4 linked regions of the Homo sapiens genome follow. The main gene of each other region encodes a partner of the protein of the gene in region 3 in a complex. Each region holds a gene or a part of one and is shown on either strand. Other genes may lie near its edges.

Evidence for each region.
Region 1: MAP3K20 (region 3) and AKAP13 share a complex: the UniProt entries of both Homo sapiens proteins name them as parts of the signaling complex.
Region 2: MAP3K20 (region 3) and NOD2 share a complex: the UniProt entries of both Homo sapiens proteins name them as parts of the signaling complex.
Region 4: MAP3K20 (region 3) and MAP2K3 share a complex: the UniProt entries of both Homo sapiens proteins name them as parts of the signaling complex.

What each region holds. Positions count from the first base shown.
Region 1 is NC_000015.10:85,579,603-85,586,626, forward strand, and holds part of AKAP13 (A-kinase anchor protein 13), read left to right. Parts: coding exon 1-2,505; intron 2,506-6,099; coding exon 6,100-6,221; intron 6,222-7,024. UniProt on the Homo sapiens protein: Scaffold protein that plays an important role in assembling signaling complexes downstream of several types of G protein-coupled receptors.
Region 2 is NC_000016.10:50,696,604-50,703,627, reverse strand, and holds part of NOD2 (nucleotide-binding oligomerization domain-containing protein 2), read right to left. Parts: intron 6,681-7,024; exon of another isoform or gene 6,385-6,680; coding exon of another isoform or gene 6,312-6,384; intron 4,249-6,311; exon of another isoform or gene 4,141-4,248; coding exon of another isoform or gene 4,133-4,140; coding exon 3,674-4,132; intron 3,659-3,673; exon of another isoform or gene 3,551-3,658; intron 1-3,550. UniProt on the Homo sapiens protein: Pattern recognition receptor (PRR) that detects bacterial peptidoglycan fragments and other danger signals and plays an important role in gastrointestinal immunity.
Region 3 is NC_000002.12:173,071,253-173,078,853, forward strand, and holds the start of MAP3K20 (mitogen-activated protein kinase kinase kinase 20), read left to right. Parts: upstream 1-4,593; 5' UTR 4,594-4,750; intron 4,751-4,818; exon of another isoform or gene 4,819-5,204; intron 5,205-7,601. UniProt on the Homo sapiens protein: Stress-activated component of a protein kinase signal transduction cascade that promotes programmed cell death in response to various stress, such as ribosomal stress, osmotic shock and ionizing radiation.
Region 4 is NC_000017.11:21,280,902-21,287,734, forward strand, and holds the start of MAP2K3 (dual specificity mitogen-activated protein kinase kinase 3), read left to right. Parts: upstream 1-3,809; 5' UTR 3,810-4,019; coding exon 4,020-4,068; coding exon of another isoform or gene 4,069-4,425; intron 4,426-6,833. UniProt on the Homo sapiens protein: Dual specificity kinase. Is activated by cytokines and environmental stress in vivo. Catalyzes the concomitant phosphorylation of a threonine and a tyrosine residue in the MAP kinase p38.

The sequences.
Region 1 (7,024 bases), on a different chromosome or scaffold from region 3:
ATATTGGCACAGCTGGAGCCTCTGACGTGCACGTCACAAGTAAGCCTGTGGATAAAATCAGTGTTCCAAACTGTGCCCCTGCTGCCAGTTCCCTGGATGGTAACAAACCTGCTGAGTCTTCACTTGCATTTAGTAATGAAGAAACCTCCACTGAAAAAACAGCAGAAACGGAAACTTCACGAAGTCGTGAGGAGAGTGCTGATGCTCCAGTAGATCAGAATTCTGTGGTGATTCCAGCTGCTGCAAAAGACAAGATTTCAGATGGATTAGAACCTTATACTCTCTTAGCAGCAGGCATAGGTGAGGCAATGTCACCCTCAGATTTAGCCCTTCTTGGGCTGGAAGAAGATGTAATGCCACACCAGAACTCAGAAACAAATTCATCTCATGCTCAAAGCCAAAAGGGCAAATCCTCACCCATTTGTTCTACAACTGGAGACGATAAACTTTGTGCAGACTCTGCATGTCAACAGAACACAGTGACTTCTAGTGGCGATTTGGTTGCAAAACTGTGTGATAACATAGTTAGCGAGTCCGAAAGCACCACAGCAAGGCAACCCAGCTCACAAGATCCACCCGATGCCTCCCACTGTGAAGACCCACAGGCTCATACAGTCACCTCTGACCCTGTAAGGGATACCCAGGAACGTGCGGATTTTTGTCCTTTCAAAGTGGTGGATAACAAAGGCCAACGAAAAGATGTGAAACTAGATAAACCTTTAACAAATATGCTTGAGGTGGTTTCACATCCACATCCAGTTGTCCCTAAAATGGAGAAAGAACTGGTGCCAGACCAGGCAGTAATATCAGACAGTACTTTCTCTCTGGCAAACAGTCCAGGCAGTGAATCAGTAACCAAGGATGACGCACTTTCTTTTGTCCCCTCCCAGAAAGAAAAGGGAACAGCAACTCCTGAACTACATACAGCTACAGATTATAGAGATGGCCCAGATGGAAATTCGAATGAGCCTGATACGCGGCCACTAGAAGACAGGGCAGTAGGCCTGTCCACATCCTCCACTGCTGCAGAGCTTCAGCACGGGATGGGGAATACCAGTCTCACAGGACTTGGTGGAGAGCATGAGGGTCCCGCCCCTCCAGCAATCCCAGAAGCTCTGAATATCAAGGGGAACACTGACTCTTCCCTGCAAAGTGTGGGTAAGGCCACTTTGGCTTTAGATTCAGTTTTGACTGAAGAAGGAAAACTTCTGGTGGTTTCAGAAAGCTCTGCAGCTCAGGAACAAGATAAGGATAAAGCGGTGACCTGTTCCTCTATTAAGGAAAATGCTCTCTCTTCAGGAACTTTGCAGGAAGAGCAGAGAACACCACCTCCTGGACAAGATACTCAACAATTTCATGAAAAATCAATCTCAGCTGACTGTGCCAAGGACAAAGCACTTCAGCTAAGTAATTCACCGGGTGCATCCTCTGCCTTTCTTAAGGCAGAAACTGAACATAACAAGGAAGTGGCCCCACAAGTCTCACTGCTGACTCAAGGTGGGGCTGCCCAGAGCCTGGTGCCACCAGGAGCAAGTCTGGCCACAGAGTCAAGGCAGGAAGCCTTGGGGGCAGAGCACAACAGCTCCGCTCTGTTGCCATGTCTGTTGCCAGATGGGTCTGATGGGTCCGATGCTCTTAACTGCAGTCAGCCTTCTCCTCTGGATGTTGGAGTGAAGAACACTCAATCCCAGGGAAAAACTAGTGCCTGTGAGGTGAGTGGAGATGTGACGGTGGATGTTACAGGGGTTAATGCTCTACAAGGTATGGCTGAGCCCAGAAGAGAGAATATATCACACAACACCCAAGACATCCTGATTCCAAACGTCTTGTTGAGCCAAGAGAAGAATGCCGTTCTAGGTTTGCCAGTGGCTCTACAGGACAAAGCTGTGACTGACCCACAGGGAGTTGGAACCCCAGAGATGATACCTCTTGATTGGGAGAAAGGGAAGCTGGAGGGAGCAGACCACAGCTGTACCATGGGTGACGCTGAGGAAGCCCAAATAGACGATGAAGCACATCCTGTCCTACTGCAGCCTGTTGCCAAGGAGCTCCCCACAGACATGGAGCTCTCAGCCCATGATGATGGGGCCCCAGCTGGTGTGAGGGAAGTCATGCGAGCCCCGCCTTCAGGCAGGGAAAGGAGCACTCCCTCTCTACCTTGCATGGTCTCTGCCCAGGACGCACCTCTGCCTAAGGGGGCAGACTTGATAGAGGAGGCTGCCAGCCGTATAGTGGATGCTGTCATCGAACAAGTCAAGGCCGCTGGAGCACTGCTTACTGAGGGGGAGGCCTGTCACATGTCACTGTCCAGCCCTGAGTTGGGTCCTCTCACTAAAGGACTAGAGAGTGCTTTTACAGAAAAAGTGAGTACTTTCCCACCTGGGGAGAGCCTACCAATGGGCAGTACTCCTGAGGAAGCCACGGGGAGCCTTGCAGGATGTTTTGCTGGAAGGGAGGAGCCAGAGAAGATCATTTTACCTGTCCAGGGGCCTGAGCCAGCAGCAGGTAAGCAAAACATAATACAAAATTAACAGTCTGAGAAGCAGATTCCCTTAAGAGTCACTGTGGTGTCCTGGTAAAAATATAGGCATCTTTGTTGTTTTGAGGCCTTGCACTCATTGGGTAGGTAGCCAAGTTAATAGTCACCACCATCAGGAGGGGCACGTCATCTCAGGGTTGGACAGATTTTGCTTCCTGTATTGTAGACTTACTGCTTGGTTGCTTAAGCTTATAAACACTCCTGTCTCATTCTGGAGTGGTTGCAACTTTGCAAACCTAGAAAACAATGCCTAGATCACAGGTACTCTAAAGTGGTGAAAGAATTTAGCAGATGTTTTTATTCACATGGCTTAATCCTTTTCTCTAGTACCATAGAAAACAGTGCCAAAAAGCTGTGTTTTATCTACAAGCCTGAAACTCCCTTCCTCCCCTATCATCCTAGTCTGTATTCTGAGCAAATTTAGAGTCAGAGTGGTTTCATGAACAGCTGTAAGTATTGTTCTGAGCTGACTTCCCAACATCCAAAATGGTGGTATTAGGTCATTGGTGGTTTTTTGTTTGTTTGTTTTTGTTTTTTTTGGGCTAGGGGTGTTGTTGACGGGGAACTCCTTCCTTTTCCTGCTTGGGGAGTGGACCTCTAGTTCCATTGCCTGTTGCTTTTGGGCAGCAGTCTGAGAATTCAAGACCCTGCACAGTGCAGGGGATAGGATGCAGGATTTCCGCCCAAGCCCAGTCTGCTGAGCTGCTGTCACAGGGCAGACCTTGTGTCTGCTTTATCTTGGTGAAGCAGCTGCACTGAGCAGATTGCTCACACAGCAGCCTGTTCCATCTGTGGGTAACCATGTTCCGAGGCAGCAAAGAGAAACCGCTATTGCTCCGTGGAAATAAACTATCTGAATAAAACTTCTTAACGGGGGTTGAGGCTGAAGCTGAAACGGGAGTCGGACACGATCTTGGCTCCTGAAGTCTTTAAAGGTCAGTTTGATGCACACTTCTATACCACCACCTGTTACCAGCTGTAGACAGAAGACCTATCTCCATGCTTGCCCCTAGGCTTTTGTAGGTAAGAAGCAGCCTGTTTTGTCTTTATTGTTTATTTTTGCTGTTCTTTTCAATTTTTGAAAATCCCTTTACACATATGTATTAAGAATGTGGGGGAGGGTTATGGAGAGAAATGAATCAATGGAGCAAAAGAAGTTGCTTTGGAAGAAGCGCAATTTAAATACAGTGGTTATTTTCCCTGGTAAAGGGCTTTTAGCCGTTTATAATCTTTTTCCTCCCCAGTTGAGGGATTTAAGGAATCCGAGGTAGAATTTTTGATGACTTTAGCTTTTTAGTTTTATTAATGTTTTGGATTGTTAGTGATAGATACTTGCTGGCTGTTGTCTCAGGATTTAAATGAGGTCTCTAATTTTTAAAAAAAGCCACAACAACAAGTCTATTTTGGGGGCCCTGGCAGGTTGGCATTTCAGAAGAATGGGAGTGGCTGTAAGCTGATGCCTGGTGATGTTCTTTTCATTTCGGTGCTGCGTCCTTGGCCACATGGGCCGGAATTATTTCTCTTTCTGGCTCAGTGGTCAGAATTTGACTCAAGCAAGTGTGAACTCTGTGGGGATTGTGTCTGTAGTATCCTATGAGAAAAAGTAAAAACCAGGGAGAATTTCAGACTTTGATTTTTATTAGCACATATAGTAAAGATGGTGAGAAATGACGGATGTTTAGGATTTTGAGGTTTTGAGAAGGAAGAAAAATGTATGGACTTTCAGCAGTATATATGGGCTTGAGGTTGGTAAATTTTGTGTAGGTGAGTTACTTGTCCTGTTACCAAAAGGAGTCATACTCATGGTCTCAAACTGCAGAGGAACTCTGTATTGATGGTCTCAGACTACAGAGAAAGTAGCCAGTCATGAAGAAATTGGTACTTTCTTCAGAAAATGGCCAGGATTGGGAAAATCCCTGGTCACATTACTTTAGAGAAAAAGCACCTGAGTGTGATCTCAGAGCCAAAGGGTATTTTCTATCAAGTTTACATTCTACTCATAGATTTAATCATACTGTTTTGTGAGTGAGAAGACATAGGTTTAACTGCTGATTTGGAAGGAGCCAGTTTGAAAGAAGGGGATGTGGCCCTTGACCCACCAAAAGCATTGACCACAGTGCTTAGGAAATCAGTGATGCATGACTGAGCCACGCCAGTCCTGCAGAGGCTGCCGACACCCGTCAAGTGTGAGTAATCACTGTTTTCTAGTGTGACTGGTTGCTGTGCCAAGATGCATCTTTTCAAAGTTGATAGGTATAGGAAAGGAAGGAGGTACCAAAAATCACATCCCCAGAGGAAAGCAACCCTCTTTCCCCCCAGAAATTACTCTGACTCACTTAGAGATGTTTTGATCAAGGGATAGTTCTAAGGGGATTGCTTAGTCAGATTTTAACTTTAATAACATTTTATGAAATTTAACACAGATTTTGGTTCTTTGGGCAAGGAAACTTGTTTACCCATTTTTAAACTGCTGGTAAGATTATATAATTATAAGGTCAAAGAAGGAAGAAAAGAGGTTCATCTATAGAAATGTAACTCTTACAAATTTAAGGTAGACTTTTGTACATGTCATGTGCTCCTAGAATAAAATCTTAATATAATTTATTCTTTGGTGAAAGAAACTTCTGTGCTCTTTAGTGTGGGGAGCATTTTTCTTGCCAGAGTAGTGGCATCACTAGGTTAATAACCACAGATGCATTTCCACATGAAATCGAGATGACAGTTCCATTTGCATTTGGATTATTAAGGTGAATTTTGACTGTTCAATCATGAGTCCCGTTTAAAGAAGTGTCAGAAGCCTAAATTTGCCTCAGACATCATTTATCATTTCCTTCCTGTATTTGCTTGACCATGTGGTGGTCAGGTAACAAAAACCACCACTGTTTTTGGTCTGTCAACATGGCCAGCAAGAGGACAACTATGTAATTCTTGAGAAAACATGCGCAGAAACGTTTCTCTTAAGAAAGGGATAGCTAGTCTGTGATTAGGTTTCAGTTTTGGAAGAAATAAGGGTTAAAAATAAGACGTAACTGCTGAGTAGTTCATTCTTACTGGTTACAGTGATGGGTGGATCAGAGTGTGTTGTATGTTAGTGAAAGTCATACTTGTCCCAGAGGCTTTTTCTCATTCTCAGTGGCTTTTTCCTTTTTGTTTTGTACAAATCCTTGCTTTTTTGATGATGGCCAAGATGGACTACCTAGCTTCAGCTATTAATCTGTTCCCCTGAAGCTTATGAATTTAGTTTTCCATATGCAAGTTGGTGCTACACTCAGATTTGTCATAAAAAGTCAATAGTGAAATGGATGTTCAAAAGACATTGAATTGGATCCTCGCTTAGTTCCAAGCGCCTACAAAGGCTAGGGAAAACCAGTAACCATGCGATAAAGGAATAGCTCAGCATAGGGTCAGAAATGACACTAGCCGCTGACAACAAAAGAATACTTTTCCATTTTAACGCAAAAGCAAAACAAAACACATGAAACCTGGAGCATGTTGTATGAATAGTAAGGCACAGGAATCAGTTTTTAAAAATGTACTCTGTAACCCCCCTGCACTTTCAGAAATGCCAGACGTGAAAGCTGAAGATGAAGTGGATTTTAGAGCAAGTTCAATTTCTGAAGAAGTGGCTGTAGGGAGCATAGCTGCTACACTGAAGATGAAGCAAGGCCCAATGACCCAGGCGGTAAGTGGCATCAGTAAGTCTATAAGGGCACAAAATGTGTTTATCCTGTTCTGCTGTGTCTTATTTATGGCTTTGTCTTTTATTTGAGGGTAAGTGGGCAAAATAGTATTTTCCCCCTTCCCTCTTGTGCTGTTATATAAATGTGTTTATGTTGCTGCAGCTAAGCTTTCATAAATGGTATATACCATACAGCAAAGTTTTGGAATGGGCTGTTACATGTTTTCTTATAGATTATGCTGAAAAACATTTTCCCCTTGAGCACAAGGCTTTAAGATTTGTCAGTAAGCTTAAATTGTCACAAAATCTGAGCTATCACAAAAGGGGATCTATAGACCTTTTCTTTCTTTTTTTCTTTCCTTCTTTTTCTTTTTCTTTTTTTTTTTTGAGATGGAGTTTTGCTCTTGTCACCCAGGCTGGAGTGCAGTGGTGTGATTTCAGCTCACTGCAACCTCTGCTTCCTGGGTGAAAGCGATTCTCCTGCCTTCGCCTCCTGCCTAATTTCAGCTGTGAGTAGCTGAAATTACAGGCATGCGCCACCATGACTGACTAATTTTTGTACTTTTTGTGGAGATGGGGTTTTGCCATGTTGGCCAGGCTGTTTTCGAACTGGCCTCAAGTGATCCACCTGCCTCAGCCTCCCAAAGTGCTGGGATTACAGATGTGAGTCATGGCACTCGGCCTATAAACCCTTCTTAAACCTGACTCTTCTTTCTTTATATAAAAACTGATAGCCAAAATGAGATTTTTACTTTATAGCTCAATAGTAACTGTCTAAATTATGAAGTATATCGTTTTCAGCAATG
Region 2 (7,024 bases), on a different chromosome or scaffold from region 3:
ACTGCAACCTCTGCCTCCCGGGTTCAAGCAGTGCGATCTCGGCTCACTGCAACATCTGCCTCCCGGGTTCAAGCGATTCTCCTGCCTCAGCCTCCCGAGTAGCTGGGACTACAGGCACATGCCACTATTCTTGGCTAATTTTTTGTATTTTTAGTAGAGACGGGGTTTCTCCATGTTGGCCAGGATGGTCTCGATCTCCTGACCTTGTGATCCACCTGCCTCAGCCTCCCAAAGTACTGGGATTAAAGGCTTGAGCCACTGCACCCAGCCTAATTTAAGTGACCTTTCTTTACACAGCTATTTTTGGCTTGCTACTCAGTTTTTCAAAATAGAACAATACATTATTTGGGGATTTATTTTAAAAGATGCTAAAACATTAAAGAAAGGCAAAGAGATGATTTACACAAAAGTCAAGCCAGTGTTTACCTCTAGCAGTTGCAGTTAAAGAAGGCCCCAGGTACTGGCAACATCCTGTTTTTTAACCTGGGTGATGGGAACAGTTTACACTATACATATGAAATATACACACTCTTCTGTATGCATGGTGCATTTCCCAATTTAAAAAATGTTTAAGTTAATATTGTTATAGGAATCAGGCAATTCAGAGCTCAGTCTGACACCTCAGCCCTATCAACTTTAACAGTTGCATGAGTCAGACGGACAGCTGGTATTACAGCTGGTGTTACCAGCCTCAGGTTTCCTAACAACTGCTATGCCCAACTGAGCAAGTTTACCACACAAAGCCCCCACATTTTATGACAGACAGAGAATAGCACAAGCTCTGGAGGAAAACAGGCCTGGATTCAAATTCTAGCTGGGCCGCTTCCCAGATGGGCGATTTGGGCAGTTTCTTCATTGTTAAGAAACAGTGTAGTCACACTATACCCTTGTGAGGCTTAAATAAAACAATACAGGGAATGGACTGGGTACAGTGTCTGGCACACAGTAGGAATTCACTCAGTCAATAGTAGCAATGGGTATTTTTGGAATTTAGTTCTTTAACTTGCATTTTGTTTCATTCCACAGCATTTTCTGTCCCTAACCTGCAATCAATGACAACTACTTCTTTATAGGAAATTAAAAGGCCATTTGGGAAGACATGTTGGTTGGATATACCACAAGCACCATCCAAATGAAATCAGTAAGGCCACTAAGGGAAGGCCACCAAATCAGAGTCACAGAATGTCAGAGCTCAAAGGGAGCTCAGAGAGAGCTGGATTCTAAAGGCTTAAACCTCAGGCAGTGCAATCCTTTCAAAATCTCCTGCTCTCCTCAGATCTGTTGTCTCCCATCCCTGCTACCCACTCAGCTCAGTCCCAACCTTCAATGTTTGCTTTTGCTGTCTATTTAGCCCTTTCTTAAGATGAATTCTTAGCTCATTAAAATTCAGCCTTAGATGGGCGCAGTGGCTCATGCCTGTAATCCCAGCACTTTGGGAAGCCGAGGGAGGAGGATTACTTGAGCCCAGGAGTTTGAGACCTCAACATAGCAAGACCCTGTGTCTACAAAAAAAAAATTAGCCTGGTATGGTGGTGCTAGCCTGTGTCCCACCTACTTGGAAGGCTGAGGCGGGAGGATCACTTCAGCCCAGAAGTTCGAGACTTCAGTGATTTATGATCGTGCTACTGCACTCCAGCAGCCTGGGTGACACAGTGAGACCCCCATCTCAAATAAATAAATAAACAAATAAATAAACAAATGCCTTCCTTCTTTCCTAATCTAGGCACCTAAGGTTGTAAATTTCCCCCTATGTCCTGCTTTAGCTGCATCCAATAGATTTTGATAAATAATATTCTCATTATTGTATGGTTCTGAATATTTTCTGATTTCCATCATGATTTCTTCTTTGACCCATGAGTTATCCCATTTCTTTTCTTCACCAATCCATGTACTTCCTCTGTTCACATCCTGTCTTCTCTGGGCCCTAGGGATCTAGGCTACCTTCTCCAAACCCCTCAGACCATCTGTACCACATCACATTGCTGAACTTTTAAAGATGACAAGACACAATCTTGTAACTTCTCAGATGGGCTGATTCAATTCCCCTAACAAATTATAAGAGAAACTAAGGTCAGTCCAATAACGAATATGTCTTCTGTACGTGCAACTAATCAGAGAGGACTGCACCACTTCTGCTCTGTAAATACCTAGCCATGTGAGCCAGCTTTAGTGCAGCCTTGAAGACAAATTTATTTATGTCATCAATCTCAATCTAGGGTTATCCAGACTCATGTGAACAACACATACATTTTTGGAAAACAGACAAAAACAAAAACTAAAATGTTCCCCAACCCAGCCCATTTTAACACTGCAGTGTCATTCTAATTCAATCATTCATTCAGTAACTCACTTATTTCATCAACAAATGTTTATGGAGTACCTACCGTGTGCAAAGCTCTATGAACACAACAAACTTTAAGCAAATATGTATGAAGCACCTAATAGATTCTGGCTGAATAAATGAATGATGGATGAATAAGTCAATGACCAGTGCTGGCCAATTGGTCCAGCACTGGCCCCCTCATTAACTACTGTGAGCTTATTCAAACTACTTTCCTTGGTCTCAACTTCCCGATTTATAAAGTGGAATGTTAATGATTGTTCCATCTGCCTCTCAGGAGCCCTAAGAATCACTATTTGGAAGAAAACAAAAGAGTTTCAAAAATACTCAGTGGTCATTTCTCTGACCTTCTGGTCTCTGCTGAGTTACTACATTCTCAGGGGCTGTTATATACCAACTCTGAACATCTATGATCTAATGCAATTTCATGTCAGAAATCCTACATAAACATTTAAGCTATATTAGTTTATAATATGCTATGTTAATTATAAAATAAATTCAATATACTGCAGTGTTATGGTCTGTTGTGCTGTTAATTTAAAACAGACAGAAATAAAAGTGTACAAGTACAGAGTATCACTCATAACAGAAATAATAAATAGCAGCCAGTGGTAATAGACACTATCCTAAGCATTACTCAAATTAACTCACTGAATCCTCCCAAGAGCCTTATAGGATAGGCACCATTTGACTATTAACATTGTTTTGTAGATGAGGAAACTGAAACAAGGGAGACTGAGGCTGGAGAGGCTCCATAGGGAAGCCTGAGATCACACAGGGTTGACCTTGAGCCTGCACCATTCTGGCTCCAGAATCTGAGTTCCTGGCCACCACACACTTCCTCTCGGCAGAAGTGTTCTGTTGGCCAGGCAAAGTGGCTCATGCCTGCAATCCCAACAGTTTGGGAGGCCAAGGCGGGAGGATTGCTTAAAGCCAGGAGCTGGAGACCAGCCTGGGCAACATAGCAACACCCCATCTCTAAAAGAAAAAAAAAAAATTAGCTGTTCATGGTGGTACAGCAGCCGTAGTCCCAGCTACTCTAAGGCCAGAAGATCACTTGAGCGCAGGAATTCAAGGCTACAGTGAGCTATGATTGTGCCACTGCATTCTAGCCAGGGTAACAGAGTGAGAAAAAGAAAAGAAAAGAAGAAAGAAAGAGTTGTACGTTTCCTGCCAAGAGTCAAGAGCAAATTTTACCTGCCTGGCTACCTTTTTAGGGGAAATCCCATGGACCAAGTTACCCCACAGGCTGACTTCATGAGGACAAATCAGTCTTGGTGACTAAGCACCCCTTTCCTGAGAACTCTGTGATGCACACCAGGAGTGCCTCACCCTCTGGGACGGTGTGAAGATCGGCAACCTGATTTCATCACATTCATACTGGCTGACGAAACCCCGCTCCCATGCCAGGTCCAGCATGTTCTCCACATGGCTGTGGAGCCTCCTGACAATGGCTGGCCGGTGACTCTGCAGGTCTCGGGCTGGGTGGAGCGAGTGGGGGTCCCAGCAGCCATGCAGCTTGGGGGACTGGCTGTCGGCCTGGGCTTCTTGGGCAGCCGCGATGAGCTTCTGACAGGCCCAAGTACCCTTATTCCAGACGGTGTCCAGAAGGCGCCTGGCCAAGTGGGAGAGAGGCTGGCCCAGGAGGTGGAAGCCCTCGTAGTCCTCCCAGGAGAGGACCTCCCAGGACAGCAGCCAGTCCAGGACACTCTCGAAGCCTTCCAGGGACCCTGAGACCAGCAGCTCGACCAGCTGGCTCCTCTGTGCCTGAAAAGCCTCCTGCGAGCACATTTCACAACCTGGGGAGGAGAACAAGGTCAGTGCGGGACTTCTCCAGAAGCCAGATGCAGGGTGGTCAGGGAAGGCCAGGGCAAGTCAGCCCCAGCAGAACCCGAGTTGGCCATGGTTCTAGCCTCAGACATTACCCAATCCAAGCTCCCCACCATATAGATGTGAAAATTGAGACCCAGAGAAGGCAAGAAACACCTCAAGGTTCCACAGAGTTTGAAGCAACCAAGAATTAAATCAAGACCCCTAACTCCCATATCCATGCTTGGTCTCCGGCTTAAAACGTTTAAAAAGGCTTGAGGTAATATTAGGAGCAAGAGATCTCCCAAGGTCACTTGAGATCAGGAGCGCTAGACCAGCCCGGCCAACACGGTGAAACGCTGTCTCTACTAAAAATACAAAAATTAGCCAGGCGTGGTGGCGAGCGCCTGTAATCCCAGCTACTCAGGAGGCTGAGACAGGAGAATCACTTGAACCCGGGAGGCAGAGGTTGCAGTGAGCCAAGATGGCACCATTGCGCTCCAGCCTGGGCAAGAGAGCAAGACCGTTTCTCAAAAAAAAAAAAAAAAGACAGAGAGAGAGAGAGAGATCTTCCAAACAATCAGGGAATTCATTCTCTTCGAAGCAGGGTGAGAGGGGCTCTTTCATGCTGGCTGGATTCAGGCTACAGCAGTTTCAGTAACGGCTAATATTAATTAAGCATAAACTACACACCAAGTGCCATTCTAAGTGCTCTCCTGCAGGAATTCACTGAACCCTCCCAGCCACTCTGAAGTAGTGCCTATGATCTACCCATTCTACAGAGGAAGACACTGAGGCACCAAGAAGCTAAGTGATTTGTACGATGTGTCACAGCTAGACAGGCAGAGTCAGGATTTCAACACGAGCCATGTATGACTCCGGAATGCATGTCTCTAACTCTTACATTTGGGTTCCCCACGGGGGCCCCAAGCCCGTGCTGTGTGTTTTGCACACTGCTACTCCAAGGGGTAGACTCAGAATATTGCTCTAAAGGTCCTGTCCTAGGCGAAGTGAAAAATTACGGTGCAAACTAAGTTGTTTCCGAGCGTTCTGGTGCCTTGTCCCCCATCAACACTTCCCACACACACTTGCCCTAGGGCCCTCACCTCCCTCCCACGCCCTCGAAACCACCGTGCACAGACTGCTGCCACTGCTATCATCAGTGACCTGCTGTGCGTTCTGGGAATTTGAGGGCAAGTGACCCTCCAGGAGCTTCAAGCCCTGGCAGGGTCCCTGAGCAGCCAAGAAAATCTCTCAGCATGGTCAGTTCTGCGATTGTCATGGGGTCTGTGGACAAGGGCTGCTGCAGTGCCCCGAAGAAACGAAAGTGAAAGGGTGTAGGCATGGACAACAAAGAGGGCCGTCAGCTTCTTTTTATAAATCAGGGACATTCCCAGACACTCAAGGGAGCAGATGCCAAGTGGCCTGGGGATTTTACCTCTTTCCTGATGGTTGTTTATGTGTCTCTCTCCCTGCCTGGGCCACGTGGGAGCCTGGGTCTTACTCGTCCTGGCATCCCTGAGCCTGGCACAGCATTGTCCCCCACAAAGACACTGAGGGAATGTTCATGAATCAAATATCCCCTGGGCTGGGGGTGGGGGGAACACTCTGTATCCGTCCTCATACGGTAGCCAAGGTAAGCAAAAGGAGAAAGCTCCAATCTCTCAGAACGCTGCTGGGGCACAGGGGGCCCTGTGCTGGTCAGATGGGGAAACTGAGGCAATGAGGTTACTTGTGTGTCTGGCTGCTTGGGAGAGAGGGTGTACCCCCCTGCAGAGGCCACTGGAAGCCAGGATCTAAGGTAGTTCTCTCAGGCCAAGGAGTTCTCCTCCTTGTGCCCACATCTAAGCAGAGGAGCCAAGAGGGTGGGGTGGCCGAGGACAGGGGAAGAGAGGACAAAAAAGGGTAGAATAAGCTCTGGGCTTGGCCCTGGAGTGGTTCTCAGCTGTGGAAACACCAGCCAAGGATGCGACAGCGGCCCCCACCATTGACCCTGCCCAGGTCCTGGGGAAAAAAACCCGCCGACCCATTCTCCCCAGAAAACAGCCCAGAAACAGAGTCAGCACTCCCCATCTGACCCCAGGCCTGGGAGCATGTCGCGGCCAAGGATGAAAGAAGGCTGAGGATCAAGCTGGGACGGGACAATGCCTGCTCCTCTTACCCGGAGAATGTCCGAGGAGGACACTTGCTCTTTCCTCCTCATCGTGAGAGGCTGAACCACCCTCTTCCCCCATCAAAGCCCATTAGGCTGGGGGAGCAGGCATGGCATCTGCGGGTAGGCCTTGTGCAGAACGCCAAAAGCCCAGTGGCACAGGACTGGTGAGCCTGGATCTGTCTACCAACCCCACCTTCAAGGGAAATTCCCAAAGGAAAAGCCGGAGGCCAGAGTTGGCCAACCAGCCTTCCAGAACTAGGCAATTCCAAGCAATTCTGGCACAAAGCCTTGTGCATCCTGGAGACCATGACCCTCACTGAAAAACCCCACTGGGGACATGAGACACATTCACGAGGGGACAGGCCACAAGTAAGTAGGGGCCCCTCCCTTGCACACCAAGCCTAGGGCAGCCTGGCCTACGTGTGAGCCATACACACCCCAGCTAGTGACGTTGGGCTTCTGTGGACACCAGGAAGGGGAGGCCCGCCCAAGCCACGTGACTCGGAGCTCTGTCCTCCCAGCAGCTACATCACCACACCTCTGCCCTGGCCTTCTTCCAGAAACCTCAGAGCAGAGAGAATCCTGAGGGCCAATTCAGCCAGGCCCTGTCTCTGAGCAGGCATTGTCCTGTCTCATCTTAAACATCTGGGGAGGAGAACCTGGCCTTAGTGCTGTTCTCACTAACCAGCTCAGGAAGCTCACCAGCTTGGGAAGTTAAT
Region 3 (7,601 bases):
ATCAGTTCTCAAAATGCAGCCTGGGGACCCTTTGGGGGGTTTGCAAGGTCAGAACTCTTCATAAAAATATTGACACTCTCTCATGAGTGTACAGTGGAATTTCCCAGAGGATATATGTAGTATGATATTGGAATAGATTAAATTCAGAAGCAGATATTAGAATCCAACTTTTGTCTACTAAGCTAAACGTTAAAGAGATTTGCAAAAATGTAAAACAATGGTATTCTTTCAGTTTTTAAAAATCTGGGGCAATGGTTATTTTTCACTAAAATGTTATTTATGTTAACATAGATAGGCTTATTGGCTTATTATTTTTAAATGGATTAATTTCTAATTTTTTTTTTTTTTGAGACGGAGTCTTGCCCTGTAGCCCAGGCTGGCGTGCAGTGGCACCATCTCAGTTCATTGCAACCTCTGCCTCCCAAGTCCTGCTTCAAGCAATTCTCCTGCTTCAGCCTCCCGAGTAGCTGGGATTACAGGCACCTGCCACCAGGCCCAGCTAATTTTTGTATTTTTAGTAGAGACGGGGTTTCACCATGTTGGCCAGGCTGGTCTCGAACTCCTGACCTTGTGATCAACCTGCCTCAGCCTCCCAAAGTGCTGAGATTACAGCCGTGAGCCGCCGTGCCCAGCTTTAATTTCTAATATAATAAATTTGATAGATATGACTCACTTAAAAGCTATTTGGCATCCTCAATGACTTTTTTAGAGTGTAACGGAGTCCTGAGACCAAAAAGTTTGAGAACTGCTTGATTTGAAAAAACAAGCCTAAAGTCTACCTTTTGCTCCCTGAGGGAAGGCAAGTTGCCCAACTTTTCCAAGACTTTTTCTGGCCCCATAGCATGGGATGATGACTTAAAACTACCTGCTAGGGTTATTGTGAAGACTAAATGGGAAGACGTCTGTGTAAAACTCTTAATTCAGTGCATGGCGTATGACTGTTCAGTAAATATTAACCATCTATTATTATTATTGCTTCTGCTATTACTGTTACCACTACTATGAGGGCTATTACTCCCTGCTGGTGATGTCTTTACTCAGATACATGAAGAACTTATTCTTTGAACTTGCTAAATGCTCTCAGGCCATTGCACTTGTTTCCTTTGCCTGGAATATCTTTCCCTCCTTTTTGTCCAGCAAATCCTCTTCATTTCTTCTTGTATTAACTTCGAGCTTCTTTGATTTAGAAGCCTTCATTGACCTCTCAAAACTATGCTAGGTACCCTGCTGTAAGCCCCAATCTTTGCCCCTTTAAGAGCATACCATAGTGTAATTGCTCGTGTCTTTGCTGGCTCTTCCATTGCACTCCGAAAACTCTGTGAGAGAGGGGACCATGCTTGTTCACTGCTATAATCATAAAGCTCTGCACAGTGCCTGGCAGTCAGTAAATGCCTGTTGAATACATTTTGTAAAAGTCTTCAATATGTCTTCTTGCCACACCGCTCCTTTCATGTCCCAGGGTGCCTAAATAAGCTCGATATCCTGCATATTCCTGTAAATCTCTTTGATCCTCAAGTTAGATGTAAACACTAAACTCAAACAATGATCTGGGCTTCATTTATGATTTTAAGGCAATGGTTAAATGACTTAAAGGATGTTTGATTATATACCTTAATTTCCCAGGGATTCAGAGTTGTACAGGAGGTAAAGCCTTGGTCTTTGCATAAAAGTTGGGTAATTCTTAGCTATGATCCAGGCATAGACTATTCACAAGTTAAGATGGAAAACTAAGACGGCTAGAGAAAATGCCCCTGGGTGCCAGCTTGTGCCATAACTCTTACCACTATAAGAGGAGGGGAGGATAAAGACTGCTTTCTTCCTTTTAAGTTGCCATTCCTTCTGCCATTCGTAGAATTTATGTCTGCACTTTTCTCATCCACTGATAGCTAGTGGCAGTTTCAGAATATCTATTTGAAGAGGGGCTTAGAAGAAACAGTCCCATTGAATAGGGGGATAGGAAAGTTTTTCCTTAAGCTATATTTATATTTTTCAACTTAGATTGCATGTTTATTTTGGAGAATGTTCTTGGATATAAGAGGGTGCTAAGGACTTCCAAGCCACCTCACTGCTAAGAGTACATCTATTTTTAGTGTGGAAACATTTGAAGTAAAGGAATAGGCAGGTTTGATAAGAGAAGTTTGACTAGGTCTCTTTTGTTATTGCTTTTCACACGGGTAAACCTAAACTCTGCCTGGTGAGCATTAACCAATTCAAAAAAGATTTGAAAGTTCAAAAAAGCAGTCGGTGTTGAGAATACATACTAGACCATATTTATTAGGTCTGGGGCCTAAAAAGATCAGTATAATCAATAGGAAACAGGCAGCTTGACAAAAGAAAAACCAAACTTGAGGCAATCAGTTTATCATACAATCATTATATATTTATTTCAGCTATGGACAATACATATGCAGATACCACACAATATAAGATGTGACCTCAAAGGGCTTGCAACCTATTTGGGAAGACAAGAAAATGTCTACTAGATTATCATTTAAGCATGTTTCTGAAACTAATCTTTAGTGTTCATTGTTCCTGCTGGTTATTCTCTTGGCCTAATTATGTGAGGAAAACAGAATGAAGGCAAAGGGATGGGAAGCAAGGGCAATGTGGCTAAAAATATTGATGCTCTTAAGCCATGTGTTCCAAATTTAAAGCAATACATTCATGGTTTTAAAGCTGGAACCTGCAACTAACTTCTAATTAGTCCCTCTTATTTTACAGAGGAGGAAACTGTGGCCTATCCTGCAAAGCACTCTAGCTGATAACTGGTAGCTCTAAGACCAGAAGTCAGGTTCTCTGACTCTCAGTCTAGGGTCCTTTCCAAAACAAACAAGTGCCTCTGAAGGTAAGGTAAAATGACTGGAGTCTTCCTATGCCTGGGGTCTATGCTAAAGAGCCTTAGTTTTTCCTTGAATGGATAGGATGGAATTATTTGAATTATTTTATTAGACCTGCATTATACATTTTTTTAGCATGGCAATTTTCATCAATTCTAATTTCTCAGTTACCAAAATAAAATTTATTAATGCTAAAATCTCCAGTCCTTATCAAAGGGCAAATTAATCAGACTAATAAATTGTTTTTTAACCTCTACTCATTCATCCCTCAACTTTCATATCTTTAACCTATTGAATGACTTACAAATTTTCTATTTCACTCTTGACCTCTTTCCTGAATTTCAGTTTCATATTTCAGTTGCTGCATCTCTACCTGTTTTTACTCCTATGACCTCAAACTCAACATGAAGCCAGCTTCCCTTTCACGTATTCCTATTTTTGTCAATGACACCATCATTCTTCCAGTCATCCAGGTCTGAGATCTTGGCATCATCTCTCTTCTTCTTCTCTTCTAAATCTTGTGGGTTACCAATTTCTGTGGCCTCTTGCTGAAACGTTTAATATTTCTCTCAATTCCATTTCTTCTTTTTTTTTTTTTTTTTTTTTTTTTTTTTTTTTTGAGACAGAGTCTCACTTTCATCCAGGCTGGAGTGCAGTGGCGCGACTGTGGTTCACTTTAGCCTCGACTTCCCCAGCTCAAGCGATTCTCCCACCTCAGCCTCCCGAGTAGCTGGGACTATAGATGTATGCCACCACATCAGGCTAATTTTCTGATTTTTTTGGAGATGAGGTCTCACTGTGTTACCCAGCCAGGTCTCAAGCAATCCTCTCAGCTTGGCCTCCCAAAGTGCTGGGATTACAGGTACCATGCCCAGCCCATTTCTTCTTTTTAATTCCATTTCCTACATCCTAACTCAGGTCCTCATGATCCCACAACCGGGTGGTGACAATATCTACTACTCATCCTGGTTCCATCCTAGCAACCCAACCTACAACTACTGTGGACTACTCTCTCAAAATTACCATTTAAACAGAATCACAAACCCCCATTTCACCCCTTTGATTCTAATTTTTCACAGCTCCCAGTGTCCATGGATAATAAAATTCAAATTCAAAATCCTGAATAATGTTGCCCATGCCCTTGCAACCTCCTCTCACTTTTCCTTCACAGAACCATCCTCCCCAATCAGAAATTTCTTTTCTTCCCAACGCCCACCTCCACCTTTGGCTTAGGCCTGTAACGGACTCTGGCTCCTCTTCTGAATTCTGCTCTGTTAAAATTAGCAACTAGAGCAGCAGACCACGGCCCCTCCTCAAAATTCCAGAGGTACCTACTGATCTTTCTAGAGAGGCAGCCTTCAGACCTATGTTCCCAGAAATCTCTACGTTTGTGCCTTTCCCAACTAGAGAATTAACTCTTGCGGGGCACAAAACAGCCTCTATTTCTTTGCGTCCCCAGCGCCTGTTTGTTGAAGACTGAGTTGAAGGAGTAGCAGGTGGTGTTAATTTGTCAAAAAGATGAGTTAAGGTGCTGGGGGCGAGGGGGAACACCCCCACGGCCCTCCCCCCACAGCAAGGCAGGTGTGTCTGGGGGCCTCGGCGGGTGCCGGGGCGCGGGGCGGATGGTGCCCCCCGGGCGCAGGCCAGGGAGGCCCGAGCGCCTTCCCCACGCCCCGCTCGCCCGCGCGTGTGAGGGGAGGGCGGCCCAGCCGTTTCGCGCCGGGAGGTAGGTGGTGCTGTTGCCGTGACTGTCTTCCTCATTGGCGCCGTGCAGAGAGGCGGAATGTTCAACTCCTAACTGCAGCGGAAACGTGGGAGCCGCGCGGGCCGCTGTCGTCCCAACCCCCGCCGCCCTCGTCGCGCGCGGGGCCTCCGCGCCCCCGGCTGCTGCTCACGCCCCGCCCGGGAGCCAGGTAGGGGTCAGGCTGGAGCCCGCGGAGGGCGGGGAGGGAGGGGGCGAGGCCCGCCGCGCTCGCGAGTCGTCCCTGCGTCTCGGGGCCGAGGCTCCGCCGGAGCCCGGGAGTCTAGGCGGCCTCGGGAGGCTCCTCGGGGCTCCCCTCCCCGACCCAGGGCCCGCCCGGCGGCGGCGGCCGGAGCGAGCGGGCGGGCGAGCGAGCGAGCGTTCGCGGCGCCCGGGAAGTCCTCGCGGGACCTTGGCCGCGGCGCCGCCAAGTGCGGTTCGGGAGAGTTCGGGCCGGTCCCATGGAGAAGTTGGCGCCTGGAGGCGCGGGCGCAGGCCGGAGCGGCCCCGGCTTTCGCGGTCCCGGGCGTGCGGCACGGGCAGGGGCTCCGCGAGCAGCAGAGCCGGCCAAGCAGCGGGTGACTGGGGCACTGTCGGGAGGCGAACCGCGAGGCCCCCAAATCAGGGTAGGGTGCAGGCCACTTCCCAGCACTCGCTGTGCGTGCGAGGAGGGACGACGAACTTCTGCTTTTCTAAGAACTCGACCGCGAGCGGTGTTGCTTCCCATCCATTTTCCTTCATTCTGTTTTCCTCACACAATTAGGCCATGCGAATAACCAGCAGGAACAATGAACACTAAAGATTAGTTTTAAAAACATGCGTAAATGTATCCAGAGCCACCGCTCCCCGCCCTTCCTGCCCCGGGCTTGGGCAGCATGAAGCGCCCGCCCTCTCGGGCTTCCCCCTTTCCTCCCACCGGAGCCGGGGATGTCTCCTTTGGCGACCCTCAGGCAGCGGCTTTTTGTGGGCTCCCAGACCTGCACCAGGCCCAGAAGTGCTTACCCAGGCCGTCGCCTCGTCTGGCCTCGCTTGCCCATGACAGCTTTCAGAAAACTTTAATTCAGGACTGGCTAGATGACATCCGATTGCCTAAAAAATTTTTTTAAAAAGTTATCTCTGTTAGATCGCTGAAAATGTTATGTTTCTGATGCGCTTTGAGATCGCGCATAAGTACTGTTTATGGGGAACTTAATTACTATTTTTGTTAGTTTCTGTAATAATGAAAGCAACACAATTTAGGGGCCCATTCCAAGTATGGTACAGTAAGCAGCTCTCGATACTGGTGTGTGAGAATCGTCTTACAGAGTGAATTTGAGGATGTTTGACTTAAGATTGTTGAAAACTGTACTCCTTCTTTAACCCCGAAGCTGTTTTGGAAGAGCCTTCTTGCTTCCTCGACCTTCGTTGAAATGAACAGCTAGGATTTAGTGGATCCAAACCTCCAAACACGTTTAAAGACAAAAATAAACAAGTGATTCAAGGCTAGTTAATGTCCTCTTTGTAGTAGGCCTATCTCCACAGTGAAATTTCACTTGTTTTTCAATTTTCCAAAAAAAAAAAAAAAAAAAAGTGATGGCTGCATTTTAATTATGGTTATGGTCATTTGTAGAGTCTTTGTTTTAAATTCCTGCTACTATAGTGAGAGATTTAGGAGATTGTAAATGAATACGAATTTAGTTTGGGAAAACAGAATTAAGATAAAGAAAAATGGTCTTTTGGACCACTGCACTGTTTATTTTAATCTATCACAATTTAATTCCTACTATAACTTTTTGAGATTATTTGGGGAGTTTTTTAACTACAAAATATTGTTTAAATAAAAAAATTTAGTGATAATAATTCCAGAGTAAATGACCATGATGCAATTGCAAGGACTTTCTCCGTTGTCTAAAAAAGCAAATAGATGATTGATCCGTTTTTCTTAATCTTTTAGGGAATATATAAGGACACAGTAAAGAGAGAAAAAAAAATCCAAATATTAAACACTCGGACTTGGATCTAAAAATGGATGGTCAAAGATCTTGGGAACTAAGGGGCCTTCTTGCCAAATAAGGAAACTTGGCAAGTTGCACTGTGTATTTTAACTTAGCACAAGAGTGAGTGTTATTGGCAATATATTGGCTCAGAGCCTATCTGGAATGAGCAGTGAAACTGACTTTGATAGGGCTACAAAATTATAAATAGGTTTGTGGGGGCGTGGAGTGAATAATCGAATCATCAGAGAAAACACTGAAAACTTTTCATGAAAATAAGTCAGATGTAAGGTGAAGCTATTAGTGTGGAGTGACAGAGCAAAATGGACAGTTTATTTTAGAAAGTGGTAGATTCAGAAGAGAGGAGAGAATCAGTGGTTTTTTTGTTTTTGTTTTGTTTTTGTTTTTGTTTAAACTGGAAAAAGATGTTTGTGGGGATATAATACTTCTTGGAATAAGATAGCCCTATGTCTGTATCCTGAGATGTTGGAAATAAAAATGAATTTAGATCACTTGTTTTCCATTTTATTCTACCCAGGACAGATTGACAGGGTGAGTATCTTGTCTATCTAAATGTAGTAGGAACAGTTAAGGCACCTTTTGGTCTTACTGCAAGGAAGATTTAGGCTAGTTTTTTGGTAGCTATTAACTTTGCCCCACTAGACACAAATAAGCAGAGTTCCAGCTGTGACCAGAAAATTGTACCTGGTAAGGGAAGAGGACTATGAATGCTAGAGCTTAGATTGATTCGACTGATACATGGGTGCTTTTATGTCAGACCCTCCTACGGATGCTGAAGCATCGTCCTAATAGCTGTTAAGTAATCCCAGCACAGTAGAAGAATCTGTGAGAACAAAGCAGCCCCACATTTGACACCCTAACCCCAGTGTCTTCAATTGTAATAGGAAATTAAAGCCTCAAATTGAACTTTAGGTGGATGGTGAGCAATCCAGTAATTACTGTAATAAGAAAATAGTTTAAATAGGGTAAACAAAAGGCAAATTAGAAGGAGGAGGCAGAATGTTATTAACAAAAAGACATGATATGGTA
Region 4 (6,833 bases), on a different chromosome or scaffold from region 3:
CTGGTCTCAAACTGCTGGGCTCAAACGATCCACCTGCCTCGGCCTCCCAAACTGCTGGGACTATAAGTGTGAGCCACCATGCCTGGCCTGACATAATTTGACTTAGGCATTTTGCTTGTCTGGCTCACACACCAGGTCATACCTCCCCAGGGAGTTGTGTCCATCTTGTTCAATGTTGTGTTCTCAGTGCCAGTCACACAGTAAGTGCTCAATGAATATCTGTTGAATGAATGAAGGAGCTGCCCACATCCTGGGTTTGGGTCAGCCTCTCTCTTTTTTTTCCCCCATCATCAGTATTTATTGAGCATTTACAGTGTACTAGGCACAATAGAACATACAGAAAACATTTCCCTGCCCTTGAGGAGCTTACATTTTAAAAGAAAAAATACACCTCTTTTAAAATGGCATTTTTGTTTGGTGTTTTCTGCAAAGTACCGAGGAAATATTTTGTAAAGTGATGCTTTGGGTATAACTTAGCCCCATCATTATTTAAAGAATAGAGGAAGAAGAAAGAGGAAGGATTTTAAAGGCAGACAATGACAGACCATTCAGGATAGGTAGGGTTTTAAAGGGAGATAAACACAATCTCATCGACTAAGGAGAGATTTGCTGTAGTAAATAGGATGAGGGAAATAGTCTGTGGGATGCAAGCAAAGGAAGCAGGGTGCCTTAGACATTGATTGGAGCCAGAAAGATCATGCGGCCTTTTTCCAAGTACATGGCCACCAAGTAGGAATGGTTGGTGACAAGACAGAAGGCTAAAAAAGGAAGGTAATCTTGTGCACCTGACAAATAGAAAGAATAAAGGATCAAAATCGAAGGCAGGCTACAATAGTATCAAGAAATTCTTAAAAACCAAAAAGTGATTTGGAAGCACAAAACTTATAGTTAATGCTATTGAGTCAGCCTCTCTTTACAGCCTTCTGTCACCCCAGGTCCTGCCCACCTCAGATCATGCTTGCATCCTGACTTTGGCCACAATCCTTCCCATCCAGAGACTCAGTTTCCTGCATCCACAGAGAGCAGGTTTGGGACTTTTCTCCTAGGAATCAAGGTAAGAGGCAGCCTCTTGTGACCCATGTCAAACATTTATTCTGCTTTCTGCATGGTCATGGAGTTCCCCAATCTGACTGTGCCACTTACAGACAGAAAGAAATCAAGAGATGTCACTATAGCAAGCCAGCAAGAGACCTTTGTCTCTGATGGTTCTTGATGGTACTTCTTGAGCTCCAGTGGTGCAGCTGTGCATCCCAGTCTGGCCCTCACCTGGTCCTCATGTGTGGCCCTTTTTACATCTCCAACCCATTGCCTCTGCTGTTCCTTTCCAGGGATGCTCTTCTTGCTTCTCTGCCTGGTAAGCTCCTACTGGTCCTTAAAAGTCCAGTCTCAAAATCACCTCCTCTGAGAGGCCTTCCTTGTCCCCACCCAGATGGAGATGGCTGCATCACCCAGGCACCCTCCTGGGACTTTTGCTCATGCATCTATTTATAGCACTCACATGGAGTTTTGTGATTCCTGAGCTGTTTATCGGGCTCCTGACTAATCCCCAAACTCCTTGTATGCGAGGGCCTGTCTGAGTCATCTGGCCGCCAAGGAGGTTGGCACGGGACTGGAGTCGCTTCACCCTGGTCTGTGGATGCTTTCCTCCTTCCTTTTTTCATTCCTCAAATATTTATCAGGCACCTACTATGTGCCTGGTTCTGGGCTATGCATTGGGAACACAGCAGGGAATGAGGCTCGGATGGTCTGGAGGGAGAGCTGTGTTAAAAACTGAGTCAGTAACAAAGACATCAGCAGCATAAGTGTTGTGCCTCAGTCTGGGGACCATGATGAGAAGGCCTCTTAGGGGTGTTCATTTAGGAAGCGGTCTGAGGGATGAGAGGGAACCAGCCCCAGGAGGCTTGAGTGGAAGAATGTTCTGGGCAGGAGCAGCAAGGGTGAAGCTGCTGCGGCAGGACCATCCCTGGCACATTTGAGGGGCAATACTGAGACTCTTGAACATCCCAAGAAGCAGAGTGCACAAGGCGGAGTGTGGCCTTGTGCAGAAGTCAAGGCTGTTGGCCAGTGCCTGAACCCAGAAAACTCGCTGGACTAGCCTTGCAGTTCTGGTAGAAAGGAAGCTGCTCCTGGATGCCCATTTTACAGACGGATAAGCACAGGTCACCAGGGATGATATGGCAAGGATGGAGGCAGCCCACAGTGTTTTCAAACTCACATTTCCTGGGCACCTAGTGAGTGCCAAGCCCTAGGCCAGGTGTTTCCACTCCTGAACTCATGAAACGCTTTCAGAGACCTTATTGTCCCCATGGGATAGGTAAACTGAGGCACAGAGCTGCTCAGTGACTTCTTTAAGGTCATCCAGCTAGTAAGTGGAGGAATTGGTATTGGAACCCATACCTATCTGAGCCCCAGACTCATGATTTTCCATCCCACTGCCTGGGAAGGGTGAACAGGAGACGCAGGAAGAGAATGGTGATGGCTGCAAGGCTTCCCTCTTATCTCCTGTGGCTCCCCACTCTGTGCATGGGGCCCTGCATCACCCCCACTTTACACCTGGGCAAGCAGAGGTCAGGCCCGGCCTCAAGCCTTTCTAGCAGGTGGTGGAATCTGCTTCCCTCACGTGAGGTCCCTGACAGGGTACACATGTCTGCCTGGAGGCCAGGGGCTGACCCCTTGACCTTTGCCTGGTACATTCTGCCTTCACTAGCCCTGGCTTTACATCCAGAGTCATCTGTTCCCAGCGCCAGATTGGTCAGCGGTTCCTGAAATCCCCCGAGGTTCCGTGTGGGAGCAGAGGGAGGACTGGCCCATCCAGCCATTATGCAGATGGGCAGACTGAGATCCTAGGAGGAGAGGAGAGAACGAAGGTCCAGGAGAGAGCCAGGATGGGGCCTCGGGGCTCGCGGGATAAAATGCACCGCATGCCGCCTCACTCCCTCTGAGACACGGTTTCCCCCTGTGTAGAACAGGGGCAGCAGTAACCAGCCACGAAAACTCCTCGTGCTGCCTCGTCACCGGGCATCGCTGAGCTCACCACCGACCCCGCGCCCTGGCCGGGCGCCTGGAGCGCGGGCGCGGGCGACGTTTGCTGGCGCCAGGCCCTCAGTGCGTGTTAGCGAGCAGCGCCGGGAGATAGCTGTCACCGCCGCCCGCTCACAGATGCGTAGACTGAGGCTCAGGTGTCACCACCTGACCAAGGCTAGTTCCGCTACAAAGCTGCCGACTCGGATCCGAACCCGGGTCCAATTTACAGAAAAGGAAACTGAGGCCCAGAGACACTAGGGAGCTTGCTAGGGTGAGGCAGCTGCAGGTTCAGAGAGCCAGGAGGCAGCCCAGCAGCGCACTTTTAACCCCCGCCCACTTCGGCAGGCCCAGCCGTGCCACCTTTAGGGATCTCGGGTTTTTTCCAGACGACGCACCCAGGAGAACGCGCCCGCGCATCGCACCCGCCGGGGCTGCGGGTCTGGGGGTGCCGGGCTGGGCCTGGGCGCCTGCAGGGAGCAGCGGGCTCAGTGGGTCCCGGGAGTGGGTGGGGCTTGCATGTTGACGGGCAGCGCGAGGGGCGCGGCTTTAGTCCAGGGGGCGGAGCCTGACCGGACCTGGGTTTTTCGGGCGGCTGGCGGACTTGACAGAGAGCGGGAGGGGCCCGGATCCTGGGCCTAAGGAGGGTGGGGCGTGTGCTTGACAGGCAGGGACAGGCCGGCGTCTGATAGGCAGAGGACGGGCCTTGGAAACGAAAGGACCAATCGGGCACGCAGGGGCGGGGCCTGAGTCAGCGCAGTTCGGCCGGGGTCTCCCCGGCGCTGCCCAGTCTGTCTCCGGCGCCGCCCGTCGCGGACTCGTCCTTGCTGCAGTCGCCGCCGCAGTCCTCGCCGCAGTCGCCGCCGCCGCCGCCGCCGCCGCCGCTGCTCCTCCGCCTGGCCTGGGCCGTCTGCCCGCAGCCATGAGCGTGCTCGGCCCCGGTGGAGCCCGCAGTCCTCTAGATTAGTCTCCACCGCCGTCCAGGACCCACTTGCAGCATGGAGTCGCCCGCCTCGAGCCAGCCCGCCAGCATGCCCCAGTCCAAAGGTAGGCGCTCCCGGCCGGGACCTCGGCCTGACCCCGCGCCTAATCTGGGGCCGGGCTGCAAACCCCGACCTTTCTTTGGTCCCACCCCATCCTGTTCTCGACCTGGCAGCGGCGTCCGGTCCCGGAACCCCTTCCTGTTCGGGGTCCCGGGACCAGCCCCCGCCTGGGCCCTCACCTGGACCCCCACGTTAGGCCTTGGGACTGCACTCAGGCCCGAGATCACCCAGGCTGGACCCAGACTAGGACTTTGTTCTGCTCACCCCATCCAAGTCAGGAGCCTCATTCTGACCTCATTTGGGCCTTATGGCTGCAGCCTGGACATGAACTCTCCCAGTCTTCTCCCTCAGCGGGACCCAGGTGAGATTCACACTGGCCTTCACCTGGGTCCTTGGGCAGCACCCAGTCCCATTTCTAGCTTCGGGTCCCAGGGCTGTATCCAGGTTGGGATTTAACTTGAGTCTCCATCTGGGCCCCAGAGTGCTCCTGTTGTTGCGGACCTCACTGTACCCCCTATGCGGGTGCTCTGGCTACACCCCAGCTCGGAACTCCCCGTCCTTCTCTCCCCCAGCTCTTCTTATCCTTATAGGCCCTATGTTGCCCCTTCCCTGGCTGGCCTGCACCCTGTCCTGCAGCCCTGGGCTCCCAGGAACCTTCCTTGTCCTCCCACCCCTCCCTAAGGTACAGCCCCCTCTCTACCGGCCTCTCTCTGTCTTGAGTTGCAAGCTTCTCCCTGCACTGGGGGTTCTCACCCCATCTTATTCTTGTCCTGGCTGCCTGGGATCTGGGCCAGCCGCCAGGCCAGGGTGCTGGCTGTGCAAGGGATTTGCTCTTCTCCAAGTAGCTGGCCTTCCTGGAAATTTTTGTGAGGTGGCAGCAGCAGGATTTGTCATGCGGAGGGGGAAGGATGAAACTCGGAGGGCAAAAGGGGAATTTTTTTTTTTTCAGGAAGAGGAAAGGATGTTTTTGGTGCGTCGGAGTTTCAGTAGGCTGGGTTGTGCGAGAGATTTCCAAACCGGACATAGCCGTAATGAATGGGCTGCCTCCTGGCTTTCTGAACCTGCAGCTGCTTCACCCCAGCAAGCTCCCTGGTGTCTCTGGGCCTCAGTTTCCTTTTCTGTAAATTGGAAGTAATCGCACCTGCTTCTGTGGACGTGGGAGTGTGGTGTGGGGTGGTGAATAGTAAAGAGCTCTGAGGCGTTCTCTCAGCGTAGCACCTGGCGCAGAGCCGGTGCTCACCAGGGTACACTGGCTGCACACATCTCGCTATTGTTTCCATTCTTCTTGCTGGAAAGGCCTCCACTGCTGGAAGTGCAGCCTCAGAGTGAGCAGGAGGAAGCACCTAGCAGCGGGCACCTAGTGGGCACTTCATCAGGGGTCAGCCGCTCTTCTGTTCTGGAGGGTGCAGGCCAATGGGAGCCCTATGTGGGCCTGGGGAGGGCATGGGCTCTTCCTGGCCCCTGCTGCTGGCTGCTATGGTGGCTGGAGCCGGGTGGGCTGGATAATTATGCCTTACATAAGTGGGAGGCCGGATCCCTGACCATTGCCCAACCACTGTGAGTAACTCGGGAGGCACTCGACGGGGGAGGTGTCTGGGGAGGGACTTGCACTGCACAGACCTCGTGGAGCTTGGGAACCAGGAAATCAGACACTTCTCCACTCTGGAGAGCTCGGGGAAGGGTAGGAAGCACTGTTTGTTTTGGAGGCTTTTTAGCTCTCCAGGCAGAGAATGCCTCATCAAAATAAAAGTTCCAGTTGCAGAGTTGTGAAAGGAGAGGGGTCATAGATGCAGTGAGAATGCTGTGAGAGGGCCAAAATGAACTTCTAGATGTGGACCCAGGTCCTAGATGAGGTTGAGGGGGCTGGATGGAGGGTCAGGGACCTCCCTCAGGCCCAGGGACTCTGTAGTCTCTTTGGGGTCTGGGGAAGGATGTGGTGGCAGAGCCACAATGCCCTTCACCAAAAACCCTATGAGCTCCTTCTTTTTTTCCATGTGCCATGCATTTTCTCATTTATTCCTCATAGCCCCATTTACTGATAAGGAAACTGAGGCGTTAAGTGCCTTGCCTGAGGCCACACAGCTGTGACAGGCGGAGCTAGGGTTCCCCCTAGGACTGTGTTTCCACAGTGGCCTTCCCCGTGCTCCCCTATGTGCCCCTCCCATGCTGGATGCCTGAGCTGAGCTGGTGGGGTGCCCCCACCCCTGGCCTTGCTCAGAGCATGTGCAGTGGGCCTGTCCTCATGGCCACGTCAGACCTAGAGGACAGACTGAGGCAGAGGTGATGCCTCTCCTGTGCACAGCGCTTTACACTGGGCCTGTTGCATTCTCGCTGCAAAATCCCACTCATTTGACAGATGCAGAACTCAGCTTGGATGGAGGAGTGGCCGGACTGCCCCCATAGGTGGAGAGCCTCACTCTGTGCCCACCCCATCCTGGGCACTGGGCCTCCCAGCACTGATCCCTTCTCCACCTTCTCAAAGGAATTTGAACAAAGCAGGGAGTGGCTGGCGCTTGACCTTACTGGAGCTTTACCTTTGAGCTTCCTGCCTGGCAGCAGGTGCCCTGCACTGTTTCCATGCCATGGGCCTGGGGAGTTTTCTATGAGTGTGTGAGGCCCTCAGGCCCACAGCTCTGCTGGTTTTCCCCTGGCCTCCTTGCCCACATGGCCATCTCTGGCTGGGGTTAGAGGCCAAGTGGCTGGCGCTGGGGCCAGTGGGTGGGGGCATGTGTGCAAGCCACATTTGTCCTTGGAGGGTACCACACGTGT